Linked DNA regions of Homo sapiens: region 1 is linked to region 2. Evidence: fine-mapped expression QTL. A gene starts in region 2. The other region holds a variant in brackets. All regions are shown on one strand. Distances are from middle to middle.

The links. PIP is the estimated chance that this variant, and not a neighbour inherited with it, causes the effect.
Region 1: its variant is fine-mapped to the expression of ITGB1BP1 in whole blood (TOPMed, PIP 0.92).

What each region holds. Positions count from the first base shown.
Region 1 is chr2:9,488,613-9,505,498 of GRCh38, reverse strand. ADAM17 (ADAM metallopeptidase domain 17) reads left to right here. Exons shown (of 19, transcript NM_003183.6): 12 at 134-333; 13 at 3,223-3,326; 14 at 8,251-8,385; 15 at 10,732-10,862; 16 at 11,674-11,752; 17 at 12,513-12,601; 18 at 14,348-14,398; 19 at 14,981-16,886. The coding sequence ends at 15,322. IAH1 (isoamyl acetate hydrolyzing esterase 1 (putative)) reads right to left here. Exons shown (of 6, transcript NM_001039613.3): 6 at 15,757-16,886. Among named protein-coding and RNA genes, the nearest start is that of IAH1, 23 kb to the right of the region's middle. The variant C/T (reference allele first, on the strand shown) is at 10,048.
Region 2 is chr2:9,418,665-9,429,637 of GRCh38, reverse strand. It overlaps ITGB1BP1 (integrin subunit beta 1 binding protein 1), which reads left to right and starts at 6,110. Exons shown (of 7, transcript NM_004763.5): 1 at 6,110-6,265; 2 at 10,906-10,973. The coding sequence starts at 10,941. CPSF3 (cleavage and polyadenylation specific factor 3) reads right to left here and starts at 5,984. Exons shown (of 18, transcript NM_016207.4): 1 at 5,815-5,984; 2 at 810-873. The coding sequence starts at 5,864. RefSeq lists enhancers at 5,748-5,797, 5,838-5,887, 6,758-6,807, 6,801-7,659 and a silencer at 6,318-6,617.

The sequences.
Region 1 (16,886 bases), 73 kb before region 2:
CTTGCCATAACTCCAGGGTGGCTCTGATGGTGGTTTTACATTAAGAGTTTGTCTCTAGAGAAGACACAAACATTGCATGGGAATACATTTTTATGATATTATTTTGGGTCCTTATTGCCTTTTTTCTCTCAAGATGTTTTCAAACTGCAGTAAACAATCAATCTATAAGACCATTGAAAGTAAGGCCCAGGAGTGTTTTCAAGAACGCAGCAATAAAGTTTGTGGGAACTCGAGGGTGGATGAAGGAGAAGAGTGTGATCCTGGCATCATGTATCTGAACAACGACACCTGCTGCAACAGCGACTGCACGTTGAAGGAAGGTGTCCAGTGCAGGTGAGGAGTCTCTCCACAGGGATTTTGGGAAGTTGGTATAACAAGATGTCCAAAATAAGAGAAGACTGAACTTGCAGGGGCTTTAGAATCAACTGAAAGGGGTGTGAGTGTGTTTGTTTACATCTACCTCTTTTGCCCTTCACAGCAAGAAATTGCTTTCTGGGCCTGGCACGGTGGCTCACTCCTGTCATCCCAGCACTCTGGGAGGCTGAGGTGGGAGAAATGCTTGAGAACAGCCTGGGCAACATAGTGAGACACTATCTCTTAAAAAACAAAAAACAAATAAGAAAAGAAGAAGCTTTCTGGAAAGCAGTGTGACATTATGTAACAAAATCCTTGACCTTGCATGCTCCTTGGTTTAGCAGTCCTATAGTTAAAAGAATCTTTTTTTTTTTTTTTTTTCCTGAGACAGAGTCTTGCTCTGTCGCCAGGCTGGAGTGCAGTGGCGCGATCTTGGCTTACTGCAATCTTTGTCTCCCGGGTTCAAGTGATTCCCCTGCCTTAGCCTCCTGAGTAGTGGGACTACAGGCACGCACCACCATGCCCGGCTAATTTTTTGTATTAGTAGAGACGAGGTTTCACTACGGTGGCCAGGATGGTCTCCAACTCCTGACCTTGTGATCCATCCACCTTGGCCTCCCAAAGTGCTGGGATTACAGGTGTGAGGCACCGTGCCTGGCAAAATAATCTTTTTTATTTAATTTAATTTATTTATTTATTTTGAGACGGCGTCTCGCTCTGTTGCCAGGCTGGAGTGCAGTGGCGCGATCTCAGCGCACTGCAATCTCCGCCTCCCAGGTTCAAGCGATTCCCCTGCCTCAGCCTCCCCAATAACTGGGACTACAGGTACGCACCATCACGCCTGGCTGATTTTTTGTATTTTAGTAGAGACGGAGTTTTAGCATGTTGGCCAGGATGGTCTCGATCTCCTGACTTCATGATCTGCCCACCTTGGCCTCCCAAAGTGCTGGGATTACAGAGGGGAGCCACCGTGCCTGGCCTTTATTTTCTTTTTGAGACAGGGTCTCAGTCTGTTGCCCAAGATGGAGTGCAGTGGCATGATCATGGCTCACTGCAGCCTCAACCTCCCAGGCTCAATCAGTCCTTCCACCTCAGCCTCCCGGATAGACAGGACTACAGGTGTGTGCCACCTGGCTAATTTTTTTTGTATTTTTTATAGAGATGGGGTTTTGCCATGTTGCCCAAGCTTGTTGTAAAGTCCTGGGCTCAAGTGATCCACCCTTCTAAGCCTCCTAAAGTGTGGAGATTCTAGGTATGAGGCACCATGCCTGGCCCAAATAATCTTTTATTTCTTTTTTTTTTTTTTTGAGACGGAGTCTTGCTCTGTCGCCCAGGCTGGAGTGCAGTGGCGTGATCTTGGCTCACTGCAACCTCCGCCTCCTGGGTTCAAGCCATTCCCCTGCCTCAGCCTCCCCAGTAGCTGGGATTACAGTGTGCACCACCACGCCCAGCTAATTTTTGTGTTTTTAGTAGAGATGGGGTTTCACCATGTTGGCCAGGCTGGTCTCGAACTCCTGACTTCGTGATCTGCCTGCCTCAGCCTCCCAAAGTGTTGGGATTACAGGCGTGAGCCACTGCTCCTGGCTGCCCAAAGAATCTTTTGGGCAACAGAGATAAGATTTAACAAGGGTATAAGATTTAACAAGGTTTTTTTATGGCTACATCCTAATAGCAAAATTTTGGAAACAATCAAAATGACAGTCTTGGGATATGAATGTTATCATGATTCTATATACTGGAATAGTGTGGAGGAAGTAGGTTACAAGTTAGAAAGTTACCCAGGTTTTCATTTTTTATATACACTGATAGACCAGTGCCTGGCTTAGAAGTAAAAGGGTTAAACTTCAGTTTTCTGGTGAATAATTGAGATTTAACTGGATACAGTGCATATTAACGCTGTAAATACTGATGGGGAGTAGAGTTCTGGCTGCCGAGTGTCTTAGCTATGGATTGCCTTGTGGCCCCACCTTGTCTTTTTTTTTTTTCCTTGTCTTTTTTTTTTTTTTTGAGAGAGTCTCGCCCTGTTGACCAGGCTGGAGTGCAGTGGCGCGATCTTGGCTCACCGCAACCTCTGCCTTCCAGGTTCAAGCTATTCTCCTGCCTTAGCCTCCCGAGTAGCTGGGATTACAGGCATGTAGCACCATGCCCGGCTAATTTTTTGTATCTTTAGTAGAGACGGAGTTTCACCATGTTGGCCAGGCTGGTCTCAAACCCCTAACCTCGTGGTCCACCTGCCTCATCTTTTTTTTTTTTTTTTTTTTTTTTGAGACAGAATTTCTCTCTTGTTGCCTAGGCTGGAGTGCAGTGGTGCGATCTCGGCTCACTGCAACCTCTGTCTCCGGGGTCCAGGCGATTCTCCTGCCTCAGCCTTCTAAGTAGCTGGGATTACAGGAGCGCACCACCACGCCCAGCTAATTTTTGTATTTTTAGTAGAGATGGGGTTTCACCATGTTGGCCAGGCTCATCTCGAACTCTCCTGACCTCAGGTGATCCACCCACCTCGGCCTCCCAAAGTGTTGGGTTGGGATTATAGGTGTGAGCCACCTCGCCCAGCCCATCTTGTCTTTTTTAAATTAATGCGTTAAATGAATGAAAACCAAGGGCACCAAGATGTTTCACAGGTGATTGCTGTGTTCCCATTCTTTTCTCCTATAGTGTGGCATTTATGTGACCTCACGCACATTAGGAAGGGACAAAGTGTGTGCAGGTAGCTCTAGCAGCGGAGATGTCTGATGATGTAGGAGTGGGTGACGGAGCCAGGAGGTCTTCCCCGGTGATCTTCAGGTCACTGTAACGTAACTGTAGCGTTTGATTTGATATGGGGCCATAATTTGAATTGCTCTGTTCCTGTCTGCTGTTCTTCTCCAGTGACAGGAACAGTCCTTGCTGTAAAAACTGTCAGTTTGAGACTGCCCAGAAGAAGTGCCAGGAGGCGATTAATGCTACTTGCAAAGGCGTGTCCTACTGCACAGGTTCGTGTTCTTGTTGCTTCCTTGGAATGCTGTGGGTCAAGTGTGTGTGTGTCTTTGAAAAACAAGATTATGTTTTGTTCAGATGAGAGACACCTTATTTTTAATCTCATATGCCGGGTTGAGTTTCTGGCACTCCTTAGTTTGTGACACTTGGCTTTGGTGGGTTTAAGACCTGTTTCTATTTCTCTTTCATTTCCATCACTCTCCTCTTTCTCCTCACAGACATCCACTCTACTGTGGTTAATATTTGCCTGGATATGTGTATATCCTTGAAAGATCATATAGTGTTATTTTGTGCATGTATGTGTTTTTAATGTGCCAAAATGATATTCTACCTTAAATTTACTTTTAAAAAATTCAGTATCATGTTTTAAAGAATTACCCATATTGTGCTACAGATAATATAACAAGGTTTTTAATGGCTACATCCTAATAGCAAAATTTTGGAAACAATCAAAATGACAATCTTGGGATAATGAATGTTATCATGAATCTATGCACTGGAATAGTGTGGAGGAAGCAGGATACAAGTTAGAAGGGTAACCAGTTTTTCTATATGTATCTATATGTATTTCACTGTTGGGGACACCTACATATTGTTTAGTTATATGATTGGCTGTGTTTTACTTACAAGTCACCAAGTGGTAGCTACTTCCATTGCCTTCATCCCCTTGATATTCCAGATAGGACACAGATCACATCCTCCTACGTCCCTTCAGGAACCTGTGTGTTTCTCTGGGTACTGAGGAGTGTCATTGTGTAGTCACAGAGGCAGGATGTGCTGGTCTCTAGAGCACCACTGCTAGGTTGCCTGTGTCTGAGGACTCCTTATCCTGACGTTCTGGCCAACGCTTGGAATTACCCTGCTGTCCTATTAGCATGATGAGTATAAAGTAATCTCTTGTTCTTACTTTTTTTTTTAACAGCCCTTGTCCTAATGCACTTACTTACATTTTTCTTGAGCATCTCTTTATATTTTTCAGCTATTCAGATTTCTCCTGTGAATAGCCAGTTCATATATTTGGTTCATTTTTTAAAAATTGGGTTTCATGTTATTTCACTACTGTGAATTTGGAGGAGTTCTTATGTAATCATCCATTTGGGCATACGTCTCCTATCTGTTGCCATTCTCAGAACAGAAATCTTTAACGTAATCAAATCCATCATTTTGTTGTGTGTGTGTATTTTTTAAACACATGGTTCAGAAAAGCCATGGCGGATGGTTAAAAAGATATTTTCCACAGCTGCTTCTATTAGCTTCATAAGTTGTCCTTTTACATTCAGGACTTGAATCTTTCTGGAGCTAACCTTTCCAGGTGTCCAGTATCTTTTGTTCGGTCAATTGTTGCTTTAAAAATTTCAAAGCTATGTTATTACTAGGTATATAAACGGACATATCTCTACATCTTTATCTGCTGTTCCTTACCAGTATATAATGTTCCTTTTTTACCCTTGCGATGTTTTTTGACTTAAATTGTCAAAAAGCAATATTCAGTTTGCTATTCTAGTTTTTTTGTTCCTCTGATATATCTATCTGTCCCATTCTTATATTTTTCAAAATTTGTCTCTCTTGGTTGGTTGGTTTGATTTTGTAATAGCTTTATTGATACATAATTCACACTCATGTAGTTTGCCCATTTAAAGTGTACAGTTTAATGATTTTTAGTATATTCAGATTTATGCAGTCATCACAATTAATTTTAGAACATTTACATTACTCCAGAAAGAAACCCTGTATCCTTTAGCTATGATCCTCCAATCCCCCCATTCCCCACAACTCAGAGCAACCACTAACCACCCTATTCTTTATGGAGTTGTCTGTTTTGAACATTTCATATAAATGGAATTATACAATATGGTTTCGTGACCACATATTGTATGACTGGCTTCTTTCACTGAACATAGCATTTTTAAGGTTCATGTATGTTGTAGCATGTATCAGTACTTCATGTACTTTTATTGCTGGGTAAATTCCATTGCATGGATATGCCACATTTTGTTTATTCATTCATTGGTTGATAGACATTTGGGTTGCTTCCACTTTTTTGCTATAACAAATAATGCTGCTGTGAACATTTATCTATGAGTTTTTGTGTGGACAGTTCCTTTGGATATTATTCAGGAATAGAATTTCTGGGTCATGTGGTAACTATGCTTAATCTTTTGAGGAGCTGTCAGACTGTTTTCCAAAATGGCTACACCATTTTACAGTCTCAGCAGCATTGTATGAGGGTCCCAGCTTCTCCATATCCTCACCAACACTTGTTATCTTTTTTATTGTAACTATCCTAGGTTTTGTGATAAGGATGCAAACAGAAAGCTGGAGGTCTTCAGGGACCTAGTGAATGAAGTTGTGTCCTATTTTGGCTTGATTTTGGTTTTCCGTGTGCATAGTATGACATGTTGCCCATGTTTTTATCTTTTGGGATCTGTCACTATCACATTACTTTGCCAAATGTTAGGAACCTGATGGCCCGGCACAGTGGCTCACACCTGTAATCCTAGCACTTTGGGAGGCCGAGGTGGGCAGATCACGAGATCAGGAGATCGAGACCATCCTGGCTAACACGGTGAAACCCTGTGTCTACTAAAAGATACAAAAAATTAGCTGGGCGTGGTGGCGGGCGCCTGTAGTCCCAGCTACTTGGGAGGCTGAGGCAGGAGAATGGCGTGAACCCGGGAGGCGGAGCTTGCAGTGAGCCGAGATCACGCCACTGCACTCCAGCCTGGGCAACAGAGCAAGACTCCATCTCAAAAAAAAACCAAAAAAACAAATGTTAGGAACCTGAATATCTAAATCAAGCTTTAAAGAAGCATTTGCTAGCTATGCTCAATGTTTCATCTTCACTGTAATAATAAAATAGATTGAGAAAAATGCTTTCTTTTAAATAAACGTAAGTAAAACAATTTGAAAACGTTTGTTCTTATCAAACAGCCTTTTGTTCCCTTGATATTTTATACAAAATAGTAGATAGCAGAGGATAAGTTCCTGATAAGGAATCAGTATTTTCTAGCAGGAAAAGCTAGAGAACAACAACCTCAAAAAAAAAAAAAAAAAAGAAGAAGAAAGAAAAAAAGCAATTAGCATTTCACAACCAGCAGCAGCAGCATCACCTGGGAGCTTATTAGAAATGGAAATTGTCAGTCCCCTCCCTGGATCTACTGCATCAAAAAATGTGGGAAGGGAGGCCAGCAGTCTGTGCTGTGTAACCTTCTGTCAGGTGATTTCCATGCATGCTAAACTTTGGGGACCATGCTAGATAGATGATACCATTTTCAGAATTATTTTCCTACCTGTCTAATACTCTGACTTTAGTCTTTTAAGAACAGATGCTCAACAGATATTTATTGAGCATTTTTTAATGTATCAGGGCAGTATCATATACCAAAAATACAATAATGATCCACAATATAAACCTTCCCTGAGCTCACTGGACATCATACTTTCAGTAATAGTTTGTTAAATGACTGTTGACATGATGAATGCCCAGTGCTCATGAAAGGTTTTATGAGAACCAGAGGCAAAGTGCCTGGTTATCTGTTGGGTACTTAATAAACCATCACTTTTGTTTGAAACTGGCCAGATTTTCTGTACATTTTGTGTTACTGCTCTGAAACCCTCTAAGTCAGAATTCTTTTGATTGGCTTCATTCTTCAGCTGAAAGGCCAGTCCAGAGCTGTGGATATATAGTCCATTGCTTTCATAAAGTGTTTTTTTTCTCCTCCTCTATTTGTGTTGACTTTTAGCTACTTGTGCTATTCATTTTCCAGAATGATTCACTCATTCCATCCTGTCTCTCCCAGTTTAACTTTCTTTGGTGGGTTTTCTTTGGCATTATTGGCCTGGGCACAGTGGCTCATGCCTATCATTCCAGCACTTGGAAGGCCAAGGTGGGAGGATCCCTTGAGCCCAGCAGTTTTACACCAGCATGGTCAACACAGGGAGATCTCGTCTCTCAAAAAAAAAGAAAGAAAATTAGCCAGGTATGGTGGCGTACGCCTGAAATCCTAGGTACTTGTGAGGCTGAGGCAGGAGGATTGCCGGAACCTAGGAGTTTGAGGCTGCAGTAAGCTATGATCACACCCCTGCCTTCCAGCCTGGGTGACAGACTGAGACCCTGTCTCAAAAGAAAAATAAAAAGAATAATTGATTTATTTAAGAAATATTTGTAGTATACCTATAATATGATAGGGATTGGAGATAACTTAATAGATTTGATCATTGCTGTCATGGGGCTTTCCAGTCTAGTAGAGGGAAAACAGAAAATAACATTAAATATATATATATAAATTGCAAAACATATGCAATGAAGGAGAGAAGGAGTGTGATAGTGCATAATGGAAGTGGGAGGCCACATCAACTTAGCATCCTCAGGGATATCTCAGAAAACCTTTGAGACAAAACTTAATCCATAAGAAAAGCCAGCTAATTGCCCCAAAAGAGTGGAAACACCAGCATTCCAGGTAGAAGGAATAGTATCTGTTAATATTGAAGGAACTGAATGGAGGTTGTCATAGCCAAAGCAGTGGGCTGTGGGAGAGTTGTGTGCGATGAAGTCAGGGCCAGATAGGGAAGGCCGTGGAGTTCTTTTAAGCCTTCATACAAAGTTTGCAATTTATTCTAAGTAATAGCACATAGGATATTCTTTTATATATGACTGTGAGATGCAGAAGTGGAGACCATGCATTCTAACTGGGGCTTGGGAGGCCAGGGACTCATGCAGCCTAGCCTGGCACATAGCCAGGCACTCCCATTTAAATGCTGATTGCTGGTGAGATGCAGGCTCTTGTCCTAGCTCTGTAGGTCACTTTTTGCTTTTGCAAGGTAAGATGCTCACTTGTATGAGAAACAGCGTATTATGCACCTGTAGAACTGGTGGACCTGTGACTCATTCTTTTTGTTATGACTGGTGTTTGCTTCCAGGTAATAGCAGTGAGTGCCCGCCTCCAGGAAATGCTGAAGATGACACTGTTTGCTTGGATCTTGGCAAGTGTAAGGATGGGAAATGCATCCCTTTCTGCGAGAGGGAACAGCAGCTGGAGTCCTGTGCATGTAATGGTGAGCAGTTTTATTCCCAGTCCAGCAGCAGGAGAAAACATGGCCTTTGTCTGCCAGGCTCCCTTCCTCCATTTGGAGGTTGTGCGAATGACAGCAGTGGTGAGATCCAAGCCGAGGATGAGGGGATGGGGAAGGGCAGGGTGGTGTCTGGAGACAGGCATCTCTGCATGCAGATCCACCATACCTGGGAGACCTATCCTGTTGGTGTTTCTTCTTGCTGCAGTTTCAGGCCATATGGCAGGCTTTGAGGTGGGAGAGGAGGGAATTTTGTTGGGGGTGAGTGGGTGGGTAGGTAGAGGTGTGTCCTAGCCTTCCTCTGCTCCATATCATACAAACCACAAAAGCAGCAGTAGCTATCTACATTACATTGGCATGGAACTAGGATACTCCTGCAACAACTCCACCAGAGAGAGCTGATTCCAGGACCTAACCCCACTAGATGAGGATTTTTGCAGTTATCAAGAAGGCTGGGTCTGCTCCCCTCTGATCTCTTAGAGCAGCCTGGGGCAGGAGCCTCTCTCCTGCTGGCCTGTCAGTTTTCCTTAGGTTTCTGTGCTATTTTGGAACCCCTGGGTTTGAGGGCATCCTCATGGACTGGTCAGGGACTGGCTGGACTCTGCTTCCCACCCCACTTAAACCATGGGAGTCGATGAGGGAGTTCTCTTGCTTTCAAAATAGACAGAGAGCCAGGTGTGGTGACTCACACCTGTAATCCCATCACTTTGGGAGGCCGAGGTGGGCAGATCACTTGAGGTCAGGAGTTTGAGAGCAGCTTGGTCAACATGGCAAAACGCTGTCTCTACTAAAAATAAAAAAAATTAGCCGGGTGTGGTAGCGTACACCTGTAATCCCAGCTGCTAGGGAGGCTGAGGCAGGAGAATTGCTTGAACCCAGGGGGCGGAGGTTGCTGTGAGCTGAGATTGCGCCGCTACACTCTAGCCTGGGCAACAGAGCGAGACTCCATTTCAAATAAATAAATAAATAAGTAAAAAATAAAATAAATAAAAGACAAAGAACCCGGTAGTTAAATAAAATCACTGGGTTGGAAGCTCACCATCCATACAGTGGAGTGAGGAACTCTTCCAAGTTCAATAATGTGTAGGTAAAGAAGATAGGTTGAGGGCAGTGTCTCACATCTATAATCCCAGCACTTTGGGAGGCCAAGGTGGGTGGATCACTTGAGCTCAGGAGTTGTTTGAGACCAGCCTGGGCAACATTGTGAAACCTCACCTCTTAAAAAAAAAAAAAAAAAAGGTAACACGTAGCAGATGCCAAATAAATCTGTTGTGTTGAATGCCAAGAGGCTTGGGGTGCTCTGGAAGGACAGAGCCCGACACAGTAAAAGTCCAAGAAATATTTTATAAATTAGTGAATGATGAAAAGGTTTTCTTTTTTTTTTTTTGAGATGGAGTCTCACTCTCGCCCAGGCTGGAGTGCAGTGGCGCGATCTCAGGTCACCGCAGCCTCCGCCTCCCGGGTTCAAGTGATTCTCGTGCCTCAGCCTCCTGAGTAGCTGGGACTACAGGCAAGCACCACCACATCTGGCTAATTTTTTTTATTTTTAGTAGAGATGGGGTCTTGCCATGTTGGCCAGGCTGTTCTCGAACTCCTGGCCTCAAGTGATCTGTCCGCCTTGGCCTCCCAAAGTGCTGGGATTACAAG[C/T]GAGAGCCACTGCTCCCGGCCTTTTCTGAAAAGGTTTTCTTTTTGCTTGTTTTTGTGTTCTAGTTGATTTCTTTTTCTCCTAAGTATGGTTTAATTTTCTGGCATTTCTGCCATTCTTATGTATGCCCACATGGCTCACAGATGCCCGGTGTTTTATCCTGTGACCTGTCAGAGCTGTTCTTGGGAGGAGTTGTGGAGCTTTGGCTGCAGGGCTCATGCTCCTGGGGTCACTGAGCTCCCCACCCAAGGGTGGACAGTTGTGTCCCAGCTGCTCTCGCTTTCAGGGAGCCAGTGTGGGCCCTGAGGGGCACACTTTAGACTGAAAAACCAAGGATTGAAGTCAGCAGGGTGACAAGAAAGTTGGGACAAAGGGAAGCATTTAGAAGAGCATTGTGAGGGGCTTGAAGGGGAGAGAATAGTTAGACTTTGAAGAGAGGTCTTGAATCTAGAATGGATTTTTCTCTGCATTTTTTTTTAAACCTTGTGGCCTCTGTCACTGAAGGCTGAGGAGTGTGACCTCAGAAACTACTCCTTGGTGGGGGCTATGGATAGTATTAGCTATTTAAATAAAAAATAAATGTGATTTCTTACCTCTTTGGGAGCATGGTCAGGGAGGAAAGAGGAGGCAGGAGGAGAGGCAGGTCTCAGAACAATCCAGCTGTCAATGCGTGTTCTCTGTTCCAGAAACTGACAACTCCTGCAAGGTGTGCTGCAGGGACCTTTCTGGCCGCTGTGTGCCCTATGTCGATGCTGAACAAAAGAACTTATTTTTGAGGAAAGGAAAGCCCTGTACAGTAGGATTTTGTGACATGAATGTGAGTATTTATGTACAGCTTTTTCTGTAACAGCCAGATAGGAAGTTTTTATTTTGTAAGTACTTGATTTTGCAGATGAAAACAAATCAAAACACAAGTGGGGCTACATCCTTCTGGCCCATTGTTATCTACGGGTATTACTTAGGAGGAGAAGACGGAGTGCTTTCAGGTCCCTGCCTGTAGTTTCCTTCTGTGGTGGGAGGCTTTGAGCCCAGAGACTGAGAAGGACTGGGGTGGGGACTTTATGGTAAAGTTGGTTGGTTTCAGGCAGTGGGTCCTAATTATGTTTTCCTAGATTACTTACAGAACTGACTAAGATTGCAAAATTATTCAGGGTGTGATTTTGAAACAGGTGCTGAATGAGTAGGAAAGACCTAGAAGGCTGCTTGACTTACTTAAGCCAGACCCTTTTGTTCTCTAGAGAAGCATAATTTTTCTCATGCAGAATGATGGGAGAGGGTTTTAAGATTTACGAGGCTTCACAGGGAGTCTGGCTGTGTTGTTCACTGTCCACTGTGTATGTGTAGAGTCCTTACTGGAATGCCTCATCTTTAGCAAACTGGTTTCCTTGATTTTTGTCTCCTGGTAATTCTAAATCACTTGTAAAAATGGAGTAATTATGAAAGTGTTAATGACAGATGTTCTACTTTCTTGGGTACTCATTACGCGGAAGTTATTGCCTTGTGTCAAAGATGGGAAAACGTTTGATTTTAATGAAGCCCTTTACATGTCAGTTATTTTTATAAAGCTACATTGCTTCTGAATACATTGTGTTTGGGAATGATGCTGTATGTATGTTTTTTCTTCATAGGGCAAATGTGAGAAACGAGTACAGGATGTAATTGAACGATTTTGGGATTTCATTGACCAGCTGAGCATCAATACTTTTGGTAGGTGATTTCCCCAGATTACTTACTGAGAGCTGAGTCAATTTCTGTGATGACATTAGAAAAGTGTGCTTTCAGAGTGATGTGCTTTAATTCTGCAGTAGAAGGTGGAACTATTCACAGCTTTAGTTATGAAACAACTTTGTTGGCTAGAATAAAATGAACTCATAGATAGTCTGTCCCCGTGGAGCTTGGATGCACAGATTTTCTGACAAGGGAAATAAAGTCAAAATACTGGCTTCCTTCTTTACCCAAAAATATCCATGTGATTAGCATAAGCATAGTTTAATGCTATAGACTGAATCCTGATTGATGTAAGAGTGTTTATTTGACTGAATGCTATATACTGAATCCTGCTTGATGTAAAAGTGAGCCTCATATTTTGCAGAAGCAGGGTATATCATGTTGTCACGAGTCCATAATTTAATCACAAAAATAATATCCAGGTAACAAAAACTTTGTCTTCTTAAGCATTTACTAGTAGTAGCATTCCATATTAATCTGTTGACACAGCTACTCCAGGTAACATGTTGAATATTCTGCAATCTCTTCCTGTCAGCCAGTATATGAGGGCTATTTCTTTAAAAGCACTTGGTATGGAGAGATGGTGTGGTGTAATACAGGCAGCACAGACATTCTGCTCTCGGTAGTATGTCTAGCCAGCAGCTCTGGCATTTGACACAATGGTAATATCCTAAGAGCATTTCACTTTAGATTTGTGAAGTACTTGGTCAAGACATTAACTGTTTGGAATTGTTCACAGGAAAGTTTTTAGCAGACAACATCGTTGGGTCTGTCCTGGTTTTCTCCTTGATATTTTGGATTCCTTTCAGCATTCTTGTCCATTGTGTGGTAAGTCATCAACTTTTAAGTAATTAAATGTTTTATTTAAATTTTGATCAACTCCAACCATGTAATCTCTGGAAAAGGTAAAACTTGTTCTTAGCAAAGTTTGGCCTGATATTTCCAATAGCTTTTTTTGTTGTTATTCCTAGGGGAACATGTCTTGTAGAAAGCTTAACTAATGGTCTTTTAAAAAAAATACTATTTTTGTGTGTTGGTGTTTTAATATATAAATTTCTTAGGAATTTTATACTTTTAAGCATAGGAGACTGTTTAACTGGATTTGTCCAGGTCCTTTGATGAGTAAAGCCCTTATTGAAGAGCATTTTCAGGCTGACTTCGTTGCAATAGAGCAAATATCAAACATCGGCATTTCAGATGTTCCCCATATATCATGTAGATTATTGGCAGCAGATGGCTATGTCTTCAGCCTTCTGCACAAATAGGATGTAGGGACTGGGGCCCAGCTGTCATATAGAGTATTTACATCTTCCCCAAAAAATAAGAGTAAGCAGTCTTTTCTGTTCTCATTCAGAATCAGTAACAGCTACAAGTTGAATTGGGCTTTGACTAAGGAACTCCTGGTCCTTTATAAATTTGAGGCCCTTTTTCATAAATGTTCTTACGAATCCATTCACTTGCATCTGTGGGGAATGGGGATTTGTCTGCTGTAGAGATGAGAAAGTCACACCCAGGCTTCCAGACTTGTTTTCCCAAACTCTTTCATAGTGGCCTTCCTATGAGCATTTAAAAATTCCAGCACAACTCTGATGACAAAGGAGTTTTTCCTACTGCCTCCTTCCTTTCCTTTCCTGCTGGCTTCTCCTGCCTAGGGGCCATCTCACAGAGCAGCTCTTCCTCAGGGTGGTGAGCATGATGGGTATAGGAAGATCTCTAGGGAGCACTTGTGCTGAAGAAAGCTGAAGGTGACGTGCTTGAAGCTTTGACAGATGTCTCTGGATGACAGTGCCATCCATCACGATTGCTTCTATTGGAGGATGGAACCTATTTTGTTTACAGGGAAGTTGCACATGTGGACAAGGCACGACCCTTGATTTCAGAGCAAAGCCTCCGATAGGAGGGAGGGCCATGGCTTGTTTTTGGTCATAGAATGCATTGATGGCACCCAGACAGGAAGCCTAGTCCTGGATTCTTGGTCCTTGCCCTCTGTCACCTATTATGCTTCAGCCACAGGCAGGGATGGGGCAGCAGATGGCCATGTGGTTAGCCTTCTGCAGAAGTAGGATGTAGGGATTGAGGCCCAGTTCCTCCAGCAGAGCATGGTCCACAGAAACTGTGGAGACAGCTAAGAGAGTGAGGCCATGGGCCGGGGCAGTGCGAAGAATGCTGCAGGCCCAGCCACCTGGGTCTTCCTACCAGTTGCCCTTCCAGTCAGTGCGGTCCTGGTGTACCCAGCATCTGGGACATTTGTCATTTCATGCACAGGAAGATGCCTTTATTATTCCCCTGCCCACAGAGGGATAAATTTCTCAGAAAACATAGCACTTAAACCTTGCCTCTTTCTGTACTTAACGCCAAAATGTATTTCCTTTGAGTGCAAAGGAAACACTTCTAGACTGGTGGCATAACTAAAGCTTGGGTGAGAAATGGATTGTCATCTGTTGAGCCTGCTATCACTTTCTACAACTCAGGTTCTAAGTTCTTCAGTTAGTGTTAGGAATAGCCTGTGATGAAATAGTACTCACTAACTGAATTGTATTTGTAGGGAATGACCTTCTTGCTGTTTCTTTCTAGGATAAGAAATTGGATAAACAGTATGAATCTCTGTCTCTGTTTCACCCCAGTGTAAGTATACCATATGAAAGAAACATAATCTTCGCCTGGTCTGAGGCCCTGTTAGGCAAAGACCTTCACCTGACCCAGCAAGAGCTTTCACTGGCTGATGGAAGGTCATGTTGCAGCAGGAAGGGTCTAGGTTGGAATGTTTACCCTTCTGACAACAGTGATGGTGAACTTCGATTAGTTGCATGGATGGACATTTAAAGAGCTGTGCTGTCCCCTTCCCAAGCCATAAGGAGTGATTTAGCCATTCAACACTTAGTTAATATTTTGAGTTCAATTTCTCTCTTGGGATCTTACCTTGAGAGGTTTGAATCCTCTTTTGGGTCTTCAAATGGTAAGTAAGTTTTCAGGATGCTTGAAAGCTAGTAATTACTGTTTTTGCCATTAAAAGTAATGGCATTAATTACTTTTGCACCAACCTAGTATTTTTTAGTCACTTAGGTTGAGTGAGCCTCACCTAGCACTTTTTTCTTAGCATCACAGTGCCAACAGAATAAGAGGCTGTTTGATGGGTAAGGGTGGAGCTGTGAGGACCTCCGATTCATCTTTTATTCCTATCAATCAATTGAACCCATGTCTTTGCAGAACGTCGAAATGCTGAGCAGCATGGATTCTGCATCGGTTCGCATTATCAAACCCTTTCCTGCGCCCCAGACTCCAGGCCGCCTGCAGCCTGCCCCTGTGATCCCTTCGGCGCCAGCAGCTCCAAAACTGGACCACCAGAGAATGGACACCATCCAGGAAGACCCCAGCACAGACTCACATATGGACGAGGATGGGTTTGAGAAGGACCCCTTCCCAAATAGCAGCACAGCTGCCAAGTCATTTGAGGATCTCACGGACCATCCGGTCACCAGAAGTGAAAAGGCTGCCTCCTTTAAACTGCAGCGTCAGAATCGTGTTGACAGCAAAGAAACAGAGTGCTAATTTAGTTCTCAGCTCTTCTGACTTAAGTGTGCAAAATATTTTTATAGATTTGACCTACAAATCAATCACAGCTTGTATTTTGTGAAGACTGGGAAGTGACTTAGCAGATGCTGGTCATGTGTTTGAACTTCCTGCAGGTAAACAGTTCTTGTGTGGTTTGGCCCTTCTCCTTTTGAAAAGGTAAGGTGAAGGTGAATCTAGCTTATTTTGAGGCTTTCAGGTTTTAGTTTTTAAAATATCTTTTGACCTGTGGTGCAAAAGCAGAAAATACAGCTGGATTGGGTTATGAATATTTACGTTTTTGTAAATTAATCTTTTATATTGATAACAGCACTGACTAGGGAAATGATCAGTTTTTTTTTATACACTGTAATGAACCGCTGAATATGAGGCATTTGGCATTTATTTGTGATGACAACTGGAATAGTTTTTTTTTTTTTTTTTTTTTTTTGCCTTCAACTAAAAACAAAGGAGATAAATCTAGTATACATTGTCTCTAAATTGTGGGTCTATTTCTAGTTATTACCCAGAGTTTTTATGTAGCAGGGAAAATATATATCTAAATTTAGAAATCATTTGGGTTAATATGGCTCTTCATAATTCTAAGACTAATGCTCTCTAGAAACCTAACCACCTACCTTACAGTGAGGGCTATACATGGTAGCCAGTTGAATTTATGGAATCTACCAACTGTTTAGGGCCCTGATTTGCTGGGCAGTTTTTCTGTATTTTATAAGTATCTTCATGTATCCCTGTTACTGATAGGGATACATGCTCTTAGAAAATTCACTATTGGCTGGGAGTGGTGGCTCATGCCTGTAATCCCAGCACTTGGAGAGGCTGAGGTTGCGCCACTACACTCCAGCCTGGGTGACAGAGTGAGACTCTGCCTCAAAAAAAAAAAAAAAAAAAAAAAATTCACTATCTACAAACCTAGAATATTTAAAATACAAAGATTGCCTGTTTTCAAACACTATTGAATAAGAGGGTGAGATATTTCTTAACAACAACAACAACAAAAAAAACAGGTTGTTTTGAATGTGATGAGCCAGCCAGGAGATAGAATACTACCTGCCCTTAGGGTTGGGGGCTGTCCCCACAAGACTTGATACTTCAGAAACCCTTTTTATTGACCCACAAGCAGATATTTGAATTACTTCTTACTTTATTGCTCCAGGATTCTGGATGGGCTGCATTTACTGTGTGAAGGATAAAAATCATTAGCCTGGATTCTGATTTCTATAAATTGCCATTAAAAGCTTTTTTTCCCCTAAGAACTGAAATGTGCTCACCAGCCAAAACATTTTAACTTGTAAATTTTGAGGGCAGTTAACCAAACCTGTGACTAATCATATCTCCTCCTACCCCCCATTTCCAAGGACATTTGTTACTCAGATACTTGTTATACTAATACTTGAACTTGTACCTTATGGTATTTGCTATCTTTTAACTAGTCATGATATTCTTATACTTTAGTTACACTTTTGGAATTTGATACAAGGTTGAGTGGGGTGTGTGGGTGTATGTATGAGTGAAACAGTTCTCAAAAGAATGTAAGAAAAAC
Region 2 (10,973 bases):
TTTCAAAAACTTTGATATCAGATTAAAATTTTAAAAGTTTATAGATTTACTACTACCAGATCGACTCTCGTGAGAAGATAATAATTAGAAATGGGAAACTTACCTGATCAGGGTAATTTAAATATTTTAAGGCATTAGGGAACAAATTCTTAAGACTCAGTCATTAAAGTTACTTATTTTTATGGCGTTACTACCAAATTAACAAAACAGATGACTAAAAGGATGACTATGTCTGACCTATACATGTTCTTTTCAGATTGGGAGGAGTTGAGAAGAAAGAGGAATCAAAGGAATCTGAGACACAGAACTGACTTTCTAATGAGTACCTTAGAAACTATCTCCTCTAACCCCTCTACCTTTCAGGCTTAGAGAAGCAAAGTGACTTGGCCAAGGCCGGCAGCCCCAGTGGGACCTGGGGATCCAAGCTTCTAGGCCAAGGCTTGATCCCCACATGCTGGAGGCGGCTAGAGCTCTCAGTGTGTTCAGAGTGCTTGGGCCCTTGGGATCTTCCACTGGGGGTGGGGCAGTTAGGCTGGCTCAACCCTTCAGGAGTGGAAGAGGGACTTTGAAGAGGTAACAGTTCAACAGATCTAGCTGACAATTTTACAGTCATAGAATATATCTTCTTAATCAACTAAATTACTAAGTAGAAGTGTGTATTAGTTTTTCTCATTAACACTATACAGCATAGATTACATGTACTATAACATTTTTCTGGGAGCTAAAAAGATAACTAGTCTATGAGAAAAGACTAACACCCAATACAGACAGAGCCATACTATTAAACTGAGTACAAAAATAGTAATTACCATTATTTTTCTTCCTTTGAACTCGAGAATAATACATGATCTTCCTACTTCTTGCCCAGCTCCACTGTAAATATTCAAGGGGAGAAAAAGAAGGATTAAAAAAAATCAAAACCAAGTCCAATAAACTTACACTTTTTTACAATGTACACTACATGCCATCTGATGACAGCACCTCACTGAAAAATTCTGAGACGTAAGAGAGTTCTACAAAATCACAAAGACAGGGAAGAACAGTGTCCACATGAGAACAGATGAAAACTGATCCTTGGGAGTCCAGGGATCTTGCAGTTCTTAAAATTAAGAGAGAAGGCGGTACAGATCCAAGAAGCCCAAAGGTTTGGGCTTGATTTAAATTCAATTTTCTGAATTTTAGGATTAAATTATAATGTATTTAAAATGTAAACTAGCAGTTACGCAGATTATATAATAATACTTCTAGAATTAGCACTTAAGTAGAAAGCCATAAGCATTTCAACACTGTCATCTTCTTTAAGATCATAATGTGTATTTGCCAAATGGCTTAAATTTAAATGGCCGGGTGCGGTGGCTCACGCCTGTAATCCCAGCACTTTGGGAGGCCGAGGCAGGCAGATCACGAGATCAGGATATCGAGACCCATCCTGGCTAACACGGTGAAACCCCGTCTCTACTAAAAATACAAAAAATTAGCCAGGCGTGGTGGCGGACACCTGTAGTCCCAGCTACTCGGGAGGCTGAGGCAGGAGAATGGTGTGAACCCAGGAGGCGGAGCTTGCAGTGAGCTGAGATCGCGCCACTGCGCTCCAGCCTGGGCAACAGAGCGAGACTCTGCCTCAAAAAAAAAAAAAAAAAATTTTTTTTTTTAAAATACTTATTCATACTGTGAATTTCAATCACTTTTTCTTCTACTTTCTGTTATTTCAGCATATTTTATACCAACTACTTACATAATTTTTGTTTCTTCTTAATAATTTCAGCCATAATTTGCAATGGTCACAAGGCACACTTTAAGTTAAACCTCATCTTTCAAATCCCTCACCTTCTTTGATGCCTTTTCCCAACCATTCTAGCTCACAATCCACTCACTCACTCAACATTAAGCAGCTTCTATTTGCCAAGCACTGGATTAAGTGCCTAGGACATGGAAATGCCTTACAGGGACCCTGACCTCAAGGAACTCAGTCAGATGGACATGCAATGGATCTATCCCCAAACTGAGATCCTACCTCCAAACAGGTGTTGATACAGAAGATCAAACAACTGTGGATGAGAGCCGCCATAAATTCCTGGCCTTCCACTTTTTAAACATTTTTTATTTGTAATTATTGTGGATACCCTGGCCTTCCACTTTAACTGGCCCTCAATGTTGCCTGGCTGTTTTCTCCATTTCATTTCCATATCAACTATTTTCAAACTTTCTTCCCTTTCCCAAATTTTCCAACCTTCTATCCTCTTCTTCACTTGAGGCATGGGCCATCTTCTGCATCAAAAAAATAAACAGTCCATTTGTAAATTTCCTCAACTTCATGTTGGTACAATAATTAAGAATACATGTACCAACAGGGTACCAACCTGCCCACATCTGTCTCCTTCTATTTCTCCTCTATAGATAGAATAGACCTCTCTTTCCACAATGAAACTTTCCACCATTCTACTCTACGTACTCCCTCCCTCCTTCTGAGGAACTCAACACTGCTGTGTCATTGACATTTTCCTCACTGTCTGCTCTTTACCATCCAATCCAAATTTAAACATACTACAGCCATGTTCATCCCCAAATTAAAATCCCTTGACTCTAAGCTCCTTTAGTTCCCACTTTATTCTTTCCCCAGACCACCTCCCAGGGCAGTGGACCCTCTTGTACTTCCTCACCTTCTACTCGCTCCTCAATTCGCTATACTCTGGCTTTTACCAATCACTTTTCTGAAACTGTCCTTGCTGCTCAGTAGTCATTTCAGTCTTTTTTTTTTTTTTGAGACAAGGTCCCCCTATGTTGCCCAGTCTGGCCTTCAACTCCTGGGCTCAAGTGATCCTCCCGCCTCAGCCTCCCAAGTAGCTGGAACTATAGGTGTCAGTCCCTATCTTGTTCTCTTGGCAGCCGTTGTCACTCCTAAGGAGTACCTGCTCCTTCCTCAAGCACCTCTCCCTTGGCTTCTCTGACCTGATGCTCTCATCTTGTCTTGCTGGCTTTCCTGTTTCCTTCACATATTCAGCCACCTCTGCCTACCCTTTAAATGTTGATATTCCGAGGGTTTGCTCCTTGGCCAACTTCTCAATCTTCATTCTCATCTTTCTGACATGCTAAGGACTTCCAAGCCTGTATTTGTAACCCAGATTGTTCTTCTGAATTCTAGACCTTTAATACATACACGTGACACTAGGTATCTCTACTAGGATCTCTCCCGGGACTTCATATTCAAGATGCCAAACTAGTTTCCACCACATGCCCCGTACTTGCTCTACTTTCTTCCTGAAATGCTTTGTCTTCAGATATTGATGTGGTTGGCTCCTTTGTATCATTTGGGTCTCAGTTCCAACGTCACCTTCTCAGATGCTTTCCCTTGACTACCTCCTCTAATTTGCCCTTCACAGCAAGCCACAACCCAGCATCAGTTATCTTAATACAACTACATGAAGTTATTGTACCTACTTATGTCTTCTTTCAGGCTACTAAATGAAAGCTTCCTAAGAACAGAGGCATTGTCCATCTTATTCACTGCTGTATTGCTACAGTACCTGGCATGTAGCACATCACAAAAAATACTTATTGAATGAACAAAACTCCTCAATTTTGAACCTTGGAAAGATTATGCTAAATGAAAGATGCCAGAGACAAAAGAGTATGTATTGTATGATCACACTTACATGAAATGTCCAGAACAGGCAAATCTATAAAGAAGTAGATTAGTGGTTGCTTAGGGCTGGAGAGGTAGTGGGGATTGTCTATGACTGCTAATGAATACAAGGTATCTCTTGGGAGTGATGAAAATGTGCTGGAATTAGAGAGAGGTGATGGTTGTATAACTCTATGTTAAGAACGACTGAATTATACTCTTTAAATGAGTTGTATGGTATGTAAATTGTGAGTTGTATGGTATGTAAACTGTATCTCAATAAAGCTGTTACGAAACAACCAAATTCCCAAATTTACTCCAGAGTTGCCCCATCTCTTATACTCCTTGAGTGAATAACACTACCCTTTCCCAACTGCCAAACTTAGGAATCTGATCATAACATCCTCTCTGCCCTGCCTTCCCTCCCCACAACCACCCTTCCAGATACAGCTGATCAGCCACAAAATCCTGAAGATCTCATTTGCATACTCTCTCACACTCACATCACTCACTACAGGCTCTCGTCAGCTAGACTTAGAATCTTTCAATATCTCACTGAATCTGCTCTACTCAATCCATGCTTTTATTCATCCATGCTTTTATTCATCTGCTACACTGCTGCCAGGAGAGATTTTCCTAAAACATAATTCCCACAATATCCATGCTTGCTTAATAGCCTTCGCTGGCTCCCTGTAATTGACTTGATAAAGGTCCAAACTCCTGTGTATACGAGGTGCTTCCTAAACTGGACCTCAACTGCCTGTCGCTTCATCTGCTAACTCAACTCTTTAGCTACAGCCATGAGGAATCTGGCCACAAGCTGTGACCACTCTCACTTTCATATGTGCCACTTCCACTGCCTAGAACATCCTGGGCCCCCCAGTCTTTAACTCCTACTCATTCTTTAGGACTCAGCTCAGGCATCACATTTTTCAGGATCCACGAGGTATCCTTTTTTCCTCAATCTGTCAGAAATCCCTTTTCCATACTTTCACAGTGCTCAGTGCAATGCCTGCCTGCGTTCTTAGATTAGCTATTATTTACAAAGCACCTACCGCGATGTTCACTCTTCAAGTTTTATCTTATTTCCATATGAGAAAACGGGTTCAGTGAGATTGTTGTCCTACTAATTGGTCAAGTAGATAATGGACTTCAGGTCTGACTTCAAAGTAATAGTCTCCTATTATTCCAAAGTATCTCTCCAATATTTCCCACTGTGCACTGTAATTCTCTCCAAAAGAGCGAGAGCAATTAACTGGGCCCTCTGTTGCGTCTATATCCCCATGTGTGGTGCTTGACACTTGCTCAGTGTTTGCTCATCACAGGAAGACATGACAGGTGTGAACTAAGCAGAAGGAAACGGACTATGTCCCAAGCAGGTGCTCAATGAAGCCTTACTGAATGATTGTGTAAAGGAGATACTTTCTACCTTTTGGAAAGCGTATATTCATGTTGTGCCAACTAGTATCTAACAATAAACATGTTGTGGGTTCGAAATGCTCATCTGTAGGAATTCAAGTTCTCTACATTTGCATCTCCCCTTCAGCAGCATTCCCGACTGATGAGGATCGTGTCCACTGAAAGGCCACTCTCCTTATGGACAGTCGAGGGCTGAGTTTTTGTCCCTAACACCTCTGCACTTTCTCTTCTCCAGCTTTACACCTTCCTTATTCTACTAGGGCCTGAGCTGAGAAGATCGAAACTCACGGCAAGTCCCTAATATTTTCTAACTTCTGGCACATGTGAAGCCCTGGTGTTAAGAAACAGACTTAATTCTTCCCTGCACGGCTGTAGCCTCATTCAGGTCCTCCTCTCATCCTGTCGGTCATAAGCTTCACCGGCTCCCTCACAGCTTGCCCTGACGCGCAGAGATCCGTGCTTGTGCTAAGTGAAAACGCTTCTTAGCGTGTACGAAAGCGAGCGGTGGCCCCGTAAAACTTTTTTTTTTCCGACTCCAACATACCCTCCCCTGAAACTGATGAAAAAGCAAAATCCCGTTCACTCTATAGCAGGCCCCTTCCGATCAACGGTCCTCCAACCCCTCGAGCCTGAGAAGCCTGGCCCGCAAGCGCGGACCAAAGGCAGGCTGCCGGGGTAGGTGGGAGCGCGGGCGACGGAGGAGGCCAGTCTCCGGTTACCCCTCGCGCCCCTCACAGCCCGTGGCTTCATTCCCTCTCTCGCTGGTCCCTTACAGGGGTCGGATCAGCAGCTGGTCGCTCTCCTCAGCAGGAATCGCAGACATCCCGAAAGTGTGAGGGCGAAGCGGGGGTGAGGAACAGGTCGCCGGGGTCTTCCTAAATTGGAAGCACAGCCACCGGTAAATAAAAAAGGAAGAACCCCATTCACCAAGAGCACAACTTCCGTCACTCCGGAGCCCGCGGCACTAGACTCCTCCCCTCGACTTCCGGTCGGGGGACGCCGCTCGCGAGGCTTCCCACCACTTGGGGTCTTGGAACCGGGGGTAGGACGTCAGGACTGCGCCTGCGCATAGTCTTGGAGGCGCGGCCCGGCGGACGTGGGCAGGAGGGCTGGAAAAGCCGGCGCTGGAGCGGGAACGGGAGTAGCTGCCTGGGCGCCAAAGGCCGCGGCACTCCCACGCGGACCCCGAAGTCCGCAACCCGGGGATGGGCCCGCGGCTGCGAGGTGAGCGCCCAGCCCTCGTCCCGCTTGGGGCCGAGCTCGCGGAGGCCTGACGGGAACACGGTCCCGAGAGCGGCGCGGACGGCCAGGAAGGATGGGTGGGGCCGCGGGGCGGGCGGAGGAGGGATGCCTGGGCTCGGGCTTGGTTCCGGGCGGGGCCGCGCTCCCGGGGCGCGGGTGGAGGAGCTTGGAACCACGCAGATCGGGCGTGGGCTTGCGGACTGCAGCTTCCCGAGCCGCTGTCGCCCCGGAGGGGCGGCAAGGCGGGCGGCCGCGGGCCGTTTCCTTGCCTCTTCCTCTGCCCCGCTTCGGCCGCCTCCCGCCTCTCAGGGTCGGGGTTGTCTGTCCCCTTCGCTGTCACATCCTCCGCACCCAGCGCTTGGAAGGTGCTCCATCACGGTGACAGACAGGTGCCAAGCAGGCTGGCGTCTGGGAGGAACTTCGGAGCCGGCTCTCCCTAGGCCCCGAGCTTGGCCGCATCCGTCCTTACTCTGGTGACCCTGGGCAGGTCACTGACTCTTCGGGCGCTTTGGCATCCTCGTTTGAAAGGGGCTGTTATCCTGCAGCCTTGCTGGTCGGTGAGGGTGAGGGTGAGAGGGATCTGTGCACCTAGCACCGTGCATGGCACGTGGTAGGCGTTTGGTACATGGGAATCGCTGTTGGGGTGTCACCTCCCCAGAAAGTTCTCGGCTTCAGTAAGCGCGTCCCCTGCCAGGCGCCCTGGCAATGCAGAGGAGTCACCGAGCTCCGCCTTTGACCAGCGTGCAGCTGGGAGAGTGAGATCAGAGACCACAGCAGATCGTGGCGCTGTGATCAGGGGGTACACTCAAGCTGTGGGTCCCTTACCCCAGCCTTGAGATCCCAGGAAGGCCTGCAGCCTGAAACGGGCCTTGAAAGGTAAGAAGTAGCCAAGTGCCTGACAGGTGAAGGACGTCCCGGGCGGTGCAAAGCAGGGGCGCGTGGAGCATCGCGCTGAGAACCAGGAGCAGCTTTGCCTTGCTGAGATCAATGAACTGTGCCCGGGTTGTGGAGGATGGAAGTGGAAAGGTGATTAGGAGCTGGGTCCTGGAGGACCTGGCGTGTCGTGCTGAAGAACGTTGACTTTGGTCTCTGACTTTGGAGAACCAGTGAAAGATTTTCAGCAGGCTAGTGGCATTAGATTCATGTTTGAAAGAAATCATTTTAATCGTTTTGGCTGCAGTGTGGGGGTAGATTTAAAGTGTTAGGGAATCCAGTAGGACAAGGTCCCTTATCCACGAAATATCCTTGGGTTTGTGAATTCCTTAAATTCATGCCAAACTTTGTATGGATGTGCATTTTTATAGGGTGAGGATCCATCACATTCATCAGTTTCTAAAAAAATAGTGTCTGTGCCCATGGTTTAGGATGACGGGGGCCCTGGTGGAGAGCTGGCTCAGAGAGCTCTTCAGGTGGGGTATACAGTGGGTCTTGGTGCCAGATTGGATGTGGGGCCTGAAGGACAGCAAGGAAATCATGATTTTCTGGCTTCCTCCAGCAATAATAGAATCTCCTGACAGGGAGAGGAGAGGAGAGGAGCAGATCTGGAGGGGAGGATGATGGGTTCAGCTTGAGACATCTTTGCATTTGATGAGCCTGCGGAGCATCCAATCGCCAATCAGGATCATTGGCCTCATTTTGATGCATGAATAATTTTTTTTTTTTTTTTTTGAGACGGAGTCTCGCTCTTTCGTCCAGGCTGGAGTGCAGTGGCGCGATCTCGGCTCACTGCAAGCTCCGCCTCCCGGGTTCACGCCATTCTCCTGCCTCAGGCTCCTGAGTAGCTGGGACTACAGGCGCCCACCACCACGCACAGCCAATTTTTTGTATTTTTAGTAGAGACGGGGTTTCACCATGTTAGCCAGGATGGTCTCGATCTCCTGACCTCGTGATCCGCCCGACTTGGCCTCCCAAAGTGCTGGGATTACAGGCGTGAGCCACCCATGAATAATTTTGAGGCAAGAATGATTTGCTTGAGAACATGCATCAAAATTGCAGCAGATATCAAAGACTTTAATAAATGCTGCTTTTTCCTAAGCCGCTGGGTTGATGATGAAAAGAAAGCCTTAAGGAGTTGCTAAGGCATTGTCGTGTCATGATTTTCATATCAAGGGATTTGAGGAGACACTTCAGGATTCCACTGACAGTAGAATCACATTTTGTTTTTAAAATAAGTTTTGATTTAAAATTCAAATCATATTTAAAATTGTTACCTATATATAAATATGTATTTATATATACTTAAGTATCTGATGTTTAAATATGTTACACATCAACATTTTAACCCGTGAGCGCCATTAACATGGCACTTTATGCTGCTACGTTAACCTAGTTTCGTGCAGGCCTTGGAATAAGGCTCTCCTGCCATCTCTCACTGACAAGTGTCCTGTGCTGGTAAGGTTCCCCTTTGCAGCAATCACCCGCAGTCTTCTTCCAACACATCTCTCACTTTTTACCCTTATCCAGTGGAGTTAGTTCGCTATCTGGCAGCCAGGGTCATCGTTTAAAAAACAGAAGACACCTGATTGTGTCGCTAAACTGCTTTTTAAAAGCCTCCATTCCAGAAGATCACAGCAGATAAGCAAAAAATAAATAAAAAGCCTTCAGAGTATTCCTCTTAAACTAAAGTCCACTGTTACCGCGGCCTGCCTGGCCTTCTGTGGCACTTTGGGCCCATTGCTGTCCTCCTGCTCCCGGACAGCCTTGACTGTTCCCTCGGGCCCCTCTCCACCCGCACGGCATTGCCTCCAGGCTATTTATGGCTGCCCGCACTTCTTTCAGAAAAAGAGCTACAGCATCTTTTTCTGAAATACCCACCCCTTCCTTCCATTAGTCTGTGTCTCCTCAACTTGTGTTAGTTTTCCTCATAGCAGTGGTTTCCTAATAATATGTTTCATGTGTGTTTTTCTTGTTGGTCTGTCTACTCTCGCTAAGAACAGGCTCCCTGAGGTCAGGGGCTCTGTTTGGTTCACTGATGCATCCCCGACACCTGGTAGGTGCTCACTGACTATCCAGGAATGAATGAATAAATCAGATTTTCCTGGTACCCCACAAATAAAGCAAAAATATAGAAGTAAATTGGATGATGAGGCTGATTAAAAAGCTTGGGCTCAGTGGTCAGACTTGGGCAAGTGGCCTAATGTCGTCCCCTAGTAAGTGGACTTAGAGTGGGGTCTCCAAATACGGAGAATCTTTGGGTTGCAGCAGGAGCTTTCACTGACTGCTGCGTGAGTTGCTCGTTCTTTTTCCTTCATCAGGTGCGTAGTTTCTCTGAAAAGCATCACCCAGGTCAGAATGAAAGGAAACTCTCTGTGCAGACCGCTGTATGTGGGACCTTTGAAGACAGTCAAATAGTGTTCAATTCTATAGTAAGCAGATTTTCTTGTTCTCTCTGGAGAATACAGTTTTTGGTAAAAAATTGATCAGGTTATCTTATTCATAAATCGTCTTGAGAGGCAGGTCACAGTTCCCTCATCTGTAAAAGGCAGATTACAGCCCACCTTCTGTGAGCCCCTTGAGGGAGAGCTTAGAGCCCTGCAGAGTGTGTGGCATATGGTATGCCCTTAAAAAGCATCAGTAGAGCAAATGGATATGTCACAAGGTTATCATGAGGCTATGACAGTAGAACTGTCCCGGGAGTTCTGTGAGCTGTGCAGCTTCATGTAGGTTAGTTAATTTGCCAAGTATAGTATATGCTGTCCTTATGCAACTGGCAAGGATGAATCTTAGTTTCCAATGCATTTATTATTATTAATTTCAAAAAAAGAAATATGTAACACAGACTCTGGGAGGCAAGGTCATCTCCTTAACTACGCTTAATAGAGAGGGGAGGTGAGGTGCTGGCACCTGGGAATGTCTTTGTGTCAGCTTTTACTTAAAGGTATTTCAAAACTTCAAGAAAAATGCACATTTCTGAGAGGTGTGTATATCTTAGCCCTACCAAGTATAGAATGTGAAACTGAGAGGGTTACTGAATCTTAGTATCTCGACTGAAAAGCCAATGTGTCATAGTATATTTTGCTAAAATCTTGACTCAATTGAAGAGAAGTAAGGCCCTTAAAATTTTGAGAACTAGGTGACGTGTCTGAAAATTTTGAGAAAAGTGCTTTTCACACCTGTAGGACAAGAAGGTTTCTGCCTTTTTTGCTTATTGGGTTAACTTTCTATAATTTAATAGGAAAGAATGAAAAGGAATAGTATCCAAGGGAAAAGTTAATTGATGATTTTTATTTCTATTTTGCATAAAGTGATTTAATGTTGCATTTCCTGATGTAACTGTAACCAATATCAAAGTTGCTTTTCCTGGCTGGGCATGGTGGCTCACAGCTGTAATCCCAGCACTTTGGGAGGCCAAGGCGGGAGGATCGCCTGAGAGCAGGAGTTTGAGACCAGCCTGGCCAACATGGCAAGATCCTGTCTCTACAAAAAATGAAATTAGCTGGGTGTAGTGGCACATGCCTGTAGTCCCAGCTACTCGGGGAGGCTGAGGTGTGAGGTCAAGACTGCAGAGCCATGTTTGTGCCACTGCACTCCAGCCTGGGTAAGAGCAAGACTCTGTCTCTTAAAAAAAAAAAAAAAAAAGTTGCTTTTCCCGATGTAACTGTTACCAATATTTGTTTTTTCAGGGGATCTTCTCTGGATCAAGCAATGGTGGTGAAAAATGTTTCGCAAGGGCAAAAAACGACACAGTAGT